Linked DNA regions of Homo sapiens: region 1 is linked to region 2. The links come from fine-mapping of genetic effects on gene expression. Tissue or cell type: whole blood. Region 2 holds a variant in brackets; the other region holds the start of a gene. All regions are shown on one strand. Distances are from middle to middle.

Region 1 (4,395 bases), 69 kb before region 2:
CAACACTGGGTAGTCACTCAATAAATATTTGTAGAATTGAATTTATGTGATGTGAATATATTCCCACTGAATTTTGTACTTTTTAGTTTGGGTCCATTTAGCTTGTCAGCATGATTTTGAAAAATGATTACCCGCTTTCATCCTGCATCTTTAAGTATGACTCATCACTCACATACCATATAACCAGCACTCACAGAGGAAAGCTCCAGGTACCCAGCTCAGTTCAATTACTAGCTGTGTGAACCTTGGCAATTTATTCAGCTTCTCTGTGTCTTGAATGCATCATCTATACATGGGGATAAAAGCCATCTCTACTCCATAAAACTGCTAATGAGGATTCAATGAGGTAATGCATATGGAGTGCCTACAACAGTGCCTGGCACACATTCAATAAATATTAGCTATTATGATTATATTTACAGCCAAGTCCAGGACCCTCTCCTCTCAGTCCTGTTCTGCATCTCTATTCCTCCCATGCTGGAGTATTCATTCTCTCCTGACCCACGCTTTCTTTCATTTCCACCTCTTACCCATCAGTTCTGAAAATGATGTCAAGGTCTCTTCAGTGCCAACTCTGCTCTGCCCTCCTTTTTTTTTTTTTTTGCATTTGTCATTAGATCCAAACTGCTTTCACAAGGTTCAGCTAATTCCCTGACTAACCTGTGCCTGGACTAAAGCTTTTATAACAATGTGATTCTAAAAAAGTTCCCACAGAAACTAGAGGGTAACATTACAAATTTACTTGGCCTTAATCCAGAACTATTTTAACACCATCTTTTATCACATAACTTACTCCATTTCAAGTTTTTTTTTAAGTGTGGCCTCCTTCACATCTTGTGCTTATACTATTTTAAAGAGAAAAACAATTTAAGGTCTTATAAAACAATTTTGTTTGCCTTGAAATTTATTTAGAAATTTTCGAAATTTTGTGTATATGTTCTCTGAGCTTTATTCTGAGTCCAGAGGAAAAGAAAATATCCTCTTTCCTGGATGGGCTGTGCCATCTCATCTTGGGCTGTGAAGTCTGCCCTACCCCATGCCACCAGTCTCAGGGGAAGGAAGCTGCCAGAGAACTTGGCTAAAAAAGGGGGATGGGGAGTAAAAGATCCAAACGATTAAATTTCCAGCTCTCAAAATAACCCCTGACTACTCCTGTCACCTCCAAATCAGGGCTTGCACACTTCTTCATGCTGGCAAAGTGCCACCCCTCTGGCCTGATCCCAGGGGGCCCTGATGAGCTATGGACGCCCCTTTATCTCTGCAAGACAGCCACGTAGAGAAGCTGGGGAGCTCACTGAATTAAGGGTGGACATGCAAGATGTATTTTCTCTTTTCTTATACTCTTACCATTCTTCTCCTTAATCTCTCTTCTGTCTTCCCCTCCATCTGTCTCCAGGCTCCTGAAAGGCCCCGTGATAGTGTTTTCTAAAACTTAGTAATTTGAGTACCACTATCACGATGTTCCTCTCCCCTGCTCTGCCTACCCCTCCGCCCCACCATATCCAAATTCCACCTGTTCTATTTGATAGCTTACTTTTTCACTTAAAAATGCAAAATCTAGCTCTTGATGTATATCACTGATTTAAATTTAAAATCAGTTTCCTTGCCATAAATAGAAAGCTCCCTGATAAATGTAATGCAAATAAAAACATATAGTAGTGGAATTTTAGTTGGATATGGCTGCTTGCTGCAGGCCTGTGCCTGAAACCTGCTGTTAGGTTAAGAAATGCTGGAGAAGTGTTAAAAACATATCAGCATCGCAGTGAGACTTGATCTTTGAAAGAGAGACACAGAAGGACAACCGAAAAGAGAGCAGCTTTCTCAAGAGGTAAATAAGTTTGTTGAAATCTGATAGGCTTCATCCCATTTCCTTCAACAACTGAGTACACTATTTGCTAACTGTACTAAAAAACGTTTTGCACATTTTTTCTTATTATTTGCTCACAGCTTTTGACTACCAGAGAATGTTTCGGATACAGGACTAATTCCTGTGGATGACAGAATGCGACCGTTGAATGGGACATTGGGTGTCATCTGGTCCAAATCTTGACCCCTTTTCATTTTCCCCGAAAGAAAGACTTGCGGCTCGGAACCGAGGGCGGCATGCCCAAGGTCACAGAAAGGGTGGTCTAATGTTTTGGTTCCTGCAGCCCAGAGAACAAGCTATCCCATCCCACAGGAGCCTTGGCGAAAAGCTCCCCGGCCGGCGCAAGGCCAGACTTCTCGCCTCCACTGTGTTGATTGCGGTTGCCAGGGCAGCGGCGCATTGCTCCCCGCCTCGTCCTGGTGACGTCACAGAGCAATGTCCAATGGGAAAGCAGCTCGGTGTCACGCACCTCCTATCCCGGCGGGCACCGCCTGCGCCGCGGCGAGTGAGGCGTCGTCCGTACTGGAGGCTAGCTCTTGTCGCGGCCGCGGCGAGTTAACATCGTTTTTCCAATCTGTCCGCGGCTGCCGCCACCCAAGACAGAGCCAGAATGTTCAGGATGCTGAACAGCAGTTTTGAGGATGACCCCTTCTTCTCGTGAGTTACGGGAGCCAGGAGTCCGGGGTCGCGCGGGAATTAAGGTATCGAGGGGAGCTATTTTAAGGGAAAAGAGCGAGTTTTAGAGGGCGAGAGAGAATTCGGAGTAACTCTGGAGGCGGTTTGAAGGAGACGAGGATTTGGAGGCCTGGGAGGGAAGAGAGAGGAGGATTTAGGGGTGTGTGAGACAGGGAAGAGACGGATTTGGGCGCATGAGGTGGAGAGAGGAGGGTTTGGACGCGTGAGGTAGGCGGAGGGAAGTTTGGGGGCGTGAGGTGTGGGGAGGAGAGTTAAGGCTGGGAGTGGGGGGAGAAGAGTTGAGGCCGGGAGGTGGGGGGAGGAGAATTGAGGGCATGAGGTGGGGAGAAGAGGTTGAGGGCGTGAGGTGAGGGAAGGGTTTGGGAGCATGAGGTGGGAGGGAGGAGGGTTGAGGGCGTGAGGTGAGGGGAAGGGTTGAGGGTGTGAGGTGAGGGGAAGGGTTGAGGGCGTGAGGTGAGGGGAAGGGTTGAGGGCGTGAGGTGAGGGGAAGGGTTGAGGGCGTGAGGTGGGGGAAGGGTTTGAAAGCGTGAGGTGGGGGGAGGAGGGTTGAGGCTGTGAGGTGGGGGGAGGGTTTGGGAGCGTGGGGTGGGAGGAGGAGGGTTTGGGGGAGTAAGGTGGAGGGGGGAGGGTTGAGGGTGTGAGATGGACGAAGGAGGATTTGGGGGTGTGAGGCGTTTGGAGGAGGGTTGAGGGCGTGAGGTGGGGGGAGGGTTTGGGAGCATGAGGTGTGGGGGAGAGTTGAAGGTGTGAGGTGTAGGAGGAGGGTTGAGGACGTGAGGTGGGAGGAGGATTTGGGAGCATGAGGTGTGGGGGAGGGTTGAGGGTGTGAGGTGAGGGGAAGGAGGGTTTTGGACCGCGAGGTGGGGGGAGGAGGGTTGAGGGCGTGAGGTGGGGGGACGGTTTGGGAGCATGAGGTGCAGGGGAGAGTTAAGAGCTTGAAGTGCAGGGACGAGGGTTGAGGGCGTGAGTTGGTGGGGAGGGTTTGGGAGTATGAAGTGCAGGGGAGGATTGAGGGCATGAGTTGGTGGGGATGGTTTGGGAGCGTGAGGTGGCGGTAAGAGGGTTGAGGGTGTGAGGTGGATGGAGGAGGATTTAGGGGCTGAGGAGGATTTGGGGGCATGAGGTGTGGGAGGAGGGTTGGGGAGAAGGGTTGAGGGCGTGAGTTGGTGGGAAGGGCTTGAGAGCATGATGTGGGAGGAGGGTTGAGGGCGTGAGGTAGGGGGAAGAGGTTTGAGGGTGAGAGGTAGTGGGACGAGGGAGGGTTGGGGCGTGAGGTGGAGGGAGGAGGGTTTGGGGGCATGAGGTGTGGGGAAGAGGGTTTAGGGGCATGAGGTGTGGGGGTAGGAGGGTTGAGGGTGTGAGGTGGACAGAGGAGAGTTGATGGCGTGCAGTGGGGGGAGGAGGGTTTGGGGGCGTGAGGTCGCAGGAGGATGGTTGAGGACGTGAGGTAGAGAGTTGAGGGCCCCAGGTAGGGGGAGGAGGATTTGGCTGCATGAGATGGAAAGAAGGCCCTTCCTCACACTCCCGGGGTGCCTGCTGCTTTCCATTTGGCCGGACTTTGGGTGCCCGTCATGGCTTCCTGTGTGCAGAGTTGGCCTTTGCAGCTTCAAGGGCTTTGCAGGTGACATAACTACCATCTCGGTGAAACTTATGGTGAGAATTATGTTCACATAATTGCAAATGGGAGCAGGGAATATTTTATAGCTCCTCTTTAAATTCCAAATAGGAACAGGTAATATTTTATAGCATGACAGTTCATTGAAAAGGGGAAGTTTTTAAAACAGCATTTTCCATGTGAGTGGGGAATGTGTCAATGAGAGCACGACAAAGTT
Region 2 (4,340 bases):
ATGCAAAAATCCTCAATAAAATACTGGCAAACCAAATCCAGCAGCACATCAAAAAGCTTATCCACCATGATCAAGTGGGCTTCATCCCTGGGATGCAAGGCTGGTTCAATATACGCAAATCAATAAATGTAATCCAGCATATAAACAGAGCCAAAGACAAAAACCACATGATTATCTCAATAGATGCAGAAAAAGCCTTTGACAAAATTCAACAACCCTTCATGCTAAAAACTCTCAATAAATTAGGTATTGATGGGACGTATTTCAAAATAATAAGAGCTATCTATGACAAACCCACAGCCAATATCATACTGAATGGGCAAAAACTGGAAGCATTCCCTTTGAAAACTGGCACAAGACAGGGATGCCCTCTCTCACCGCTCCTATTCAACATAGTGTTGGACGTTCTGGCCAGGGCAATCAGGCAGGAGAAGGAAATAAAGGGTATTCAATTAGGAAAAGAGGAAGTCAAATTGTCCCTGTTTGCAGACGACATGATTGTTTATCTAGAAAACCCCATTGTCTCAGCCCAAAATCTCCTTAAGCTGATAAGCAACTTCAGCAAAGTCTCAGGATACAAAATCAATGTACAAAAATCACAAGCATTCTTATACACCAACAACAGACAAACAGAGAGCCAAATCATGAGTGAACTCCCATTCACAATTGCTTCAAAGAGAATAAAATACCTAGGAATCCAACTTACAAGGGATGTGAAGGACCTCTTCAAGGAGAACTACAAACCACTGCTCAAGGAAATAAAAGAGGATACAAACAAATGGAAGAACATTCCATGCTCATGGGTAGGAAGAATCAATATCATGAAAATGGCCATACTGCCCAAGGTAATTTACAGATTCAGTGCCATCCCCATCAAGCTACCAATGACTTTCTTCACAGAATTGGAAAAAACTACTTTAAAGTTCATATGGAACCAAAAAAGAGCCCGCATCGCCAAGTCAATCCTAAGCCAAAAGAACAAAGCTGGAGGCATCACACTACCTGACTTCAAACTATACTACAAGGCTACAGTAACCAAAACAGCATGGTACTGGTACCAAAACAGAGATATAGATCAATGGAACAGAACAGAGCCCTCAGAAATAACGCCGCATACCTACAACTATCTGATCTTTGACAAACCTGAGAAAAACAAGCAATGGGGAAAGGATTCCCTATTTAATAAATGGTGTTGGGAAAACTGGCTAGCCATATGTAGAAAGCTGAAACTGGATCCCTTCCTTACACCTTATACAAAAATCAATTCAAGATGGATTAAAGATTTAAACGTTAGACCTAAAACCATAAAAACCCTAGAAGAAAACCTAGGCATTACCATTCAGGACATAGGCGTGGGCAAGGACTTCATGTCCAAAACACCAAAAGCAATGGCAACAAAAGCCAAAATTGACAAATGGGACCTAATTAAACTAAAGAGCTTCTGCACAGCAAAAGAAACTACCATCAGAGTGAACAGGCAACCTACAACATGGGAGAAAATTTTCGCAACCTACTCATCTGACAAAGGGCTAATATCCAGAATCTACAATGAACTCAAACAAATTTACAAGAAAAAAACAAACAACCCCATCAAAAAGTGGGCGAAGGACATGAACAGACACTTCTCAAAAGAAGACATTTATGCAGCCAAAAAATACATGAAAAAATGCTCATCATCACTGGCCATCAGAGAAATGCAAATCAAAACCACTATGAGATACCATCTCACACCAGTTAGAATGGCAGTCATTAAAAAGTCAGGAAACAACAGGTGCTGGAAAGGATGTGGAGAAATAGGAACACTTTTACACTGTTGGTGGGACTGTAAACTAGTTCAACCATTGTGGAAGTCAGTGTGGCGATTCCTCAGGTATCTAGAACTAGAAATACCATTTGACCCAGCCATCCCATTACTGGGTATATACCCAAATGACTATAAATCATGCTGCTATAAAGACACATGCACACGTATGTTTATTGCGGCATTATTCACAATAGCAAAGACTTGGAACCAACCCAAATGTCCAACAATGATAGACTGGATTAAGAAAATGTGGCACATATACACCATGGAATACTATGCAACCATAAAAAATGATGAGTTCATGTCCTTTGTAGGGACATGGATGAAATTGGAAACCATCATTCTCAGTAAACTATCGCAAGAACAAAAAACCAAACACCGCATATTCTCACTCATAGGTGGGAATTGAACAATGAGATCACATGGTCACAGGAAGGGGAATATCACACTCTGGGGACTGTGGTGGGGTGGGGGGAGGGGGGAGGGGTAGCATTGGGAGATATACCTAATGCTAGATGACGAGTTAGTGGGTGCAGCGCACCAGCATGGCACATGTATACATATGTAACTAACCTGCACAATGTGCACATGTACCCTAAAACTTAAAGTATAATTAAAAAAAAAAAAAGAAATCTGTGGAATGACTCTCATAACTCAGAAACTCTGGCCAGTGATCCACCTTTAAAAAGCTATCTCATTTCTGTGTATAAGAAGGTGTGTGTGCTCTGTGTGCATCTCCTCACGGAGCTGTGTGAACAGATGTGAGTTAAGGGCACGTACTTTAATGTGGTTGATAATTTTAATCACATCCTGCAAAACGTTAAGTTCATTTGATACTTTCTGGCTAGCTAGCATTTCTCTATGGACGACTCAGTGTGTAGACTCACATTCAGAAGCAACCTCTTTGACCCGAATAGTGAAACCAGAAAGCTGTCCAGTCATGGCAGCTGCTCTGTCGGT[C/G]CATAAACTGACACAAAATAACCAATTCAGTTTTGCTATGTAATCATTCAAAGACTTGACTAGTTCTGCCGCTGTGGTGTTGGTTGGCAACAAAAGTGCACATAACATATCCTCATGCACATCCACCTGAAAAATCACACAAAAACAAGCATTGTTGACTTGTTGTCAACCTCAGTAAATTAATCAACCTGGATTTTGTACCAGAGTGACCCATTAATCCTTTCTTTTCTTTTTTTTTTTTGAGATTGAGTCTCGATCTGTCACCCAAGCTGGAGTGCAGTGGCATGATCTTGGCTCACTGCAACCTCCGCCTCACGGGTTCAAGTGATTCTCCTGCCTCAGCCTCCTGAGTAGCTGGGATTACAGGCGCATGCCACCATGCCTGGCAGATTTTTGTATTTTTAGTAGAGATGGGGTTTTACCATGTTGGTCAGGCTGGTCTTGAACTCCTGACCTTGTGATGCGCCCGCCTCGGCCTCCCAAAGTGCTGGGATTATAGGCATGAGCCACTGCACCCAGCCCCATTAATCCTTTCTAGTAATTGTGCCTCGATATCCTCTGCTATTTCATCATTTCCTCTAATTATGGTGCTAGCCCAAAGAGGCACACGTGCCACCTTTTGAACTGCAGCATCTCCTAAAAGTTCATGACAAATGTCCTTAGCAGCAGGCAGGTTCAATTCTCCAGTAGTAAAGAGCTTCTTAGCTTAGCAATGCTGTTAGCCACTAAGAATGACACTGTCAATGCAGACACATTTGATGGAAGTGGCGGCCTTCAATAATTGCTTCTGTTCTTCGTGTCCACATTTTTTCTTTTGAAAAACTCCAAAGGCTTCTCTTTTTATGTAGGGTGCTTGGTCTCCATGTGGCGAAGCAGTTTTGAAGGTTTCATGGGTTTGTTGGATAGCCGCTTGCCACATATTATATAAAGCAGGCTTGGAGAATGTGAATCACCTGTTGCAGTGAACCTGCAATTTAAGTAGGACTCTAGGTATTTTCTTTCACATGCAGCTTTCCTTTTATTAGCAGTCTTAGAGTTTTCCATTTTCTCATCATTGGGTCTTTCCCCATTTTCAAAGAAGCTCTCCAGTGACATTTGTTTTTTACTCGTTTTGGCTAGAGTTAGGTTGTGGGCTTACCAAAACTGTGACTGAGGCAAGTGCTCAGTGTGGGAAGGAAGCGCGGACGGAAGTGGTAAATAAAATAATGGGCGGGCCACGCAAGACTTTAAAGCCTGCCATCAGATGCAACTGTACAACTGAAATACATCAACTCACTTGCCACTATAAAGCTTGCCACCAGTGCAGCTTTTGTCACTTGACACTCACTGACAGGGTTTTGATATGAATCTGCAAGCAATTGATTTATTATGGTCTCTGTGCAGTCAAACCTCTTTGCTAATGTTAATCTGTATTTGCAGCTGTTCCCCAGCCCTAGCGGCCACACCTTAGCTCCACCTCAGGTCATCAGGCATTAGATTCTCATAAGGAGTGCGTAACCCAGATCCCTTGAATGGATAGTTCACAAGGGGGTTCACACTCCCATGAGAATCTAATGCCACTGCTAATCTGACAGGA

The links. PIP is the estimated chance that this variant, and not a neighbour inherited with it, causes the effect. A credible set is the group of variants that fine-mapping cannot tell apart.
Region 1: it holds the start of MLF1, and the variant in region 2 is the best candidate, but not a certain one, in a credible set for the expression of MLF1 in whole blood (INTERVAL, PIP 0.76).

The regions. Positions count from the first base shown.
Region 1 is chr3:158,568,824-158,573,218 of GRCh38, forward strand. It overlaps MLF1 (myeloid leukemia factor 1), which reads left to right and starts at 2,371. Exons shown (of 8, transcript NM_001369783.1): 1 at 2,371-2,524. The coding sequence starts at 2,478. MLF1-DT (MLF1 divergent transcript) reads right to left here and starts at 2,243. Exons shown (of 5, transcript NR_104147.1): 1 at 1,348-2,243.
Region 2 is chr3:158,638,113-158,642,452 of GRCh38, forward strand. No RefSeq gene overlaps it. Among named protein-coding and RNA genes, the nearest start is that of GFM1, 4.2 kb to the right of the region's middle. The variant C/G (reference allele first, on the strand shown) is at 2,765.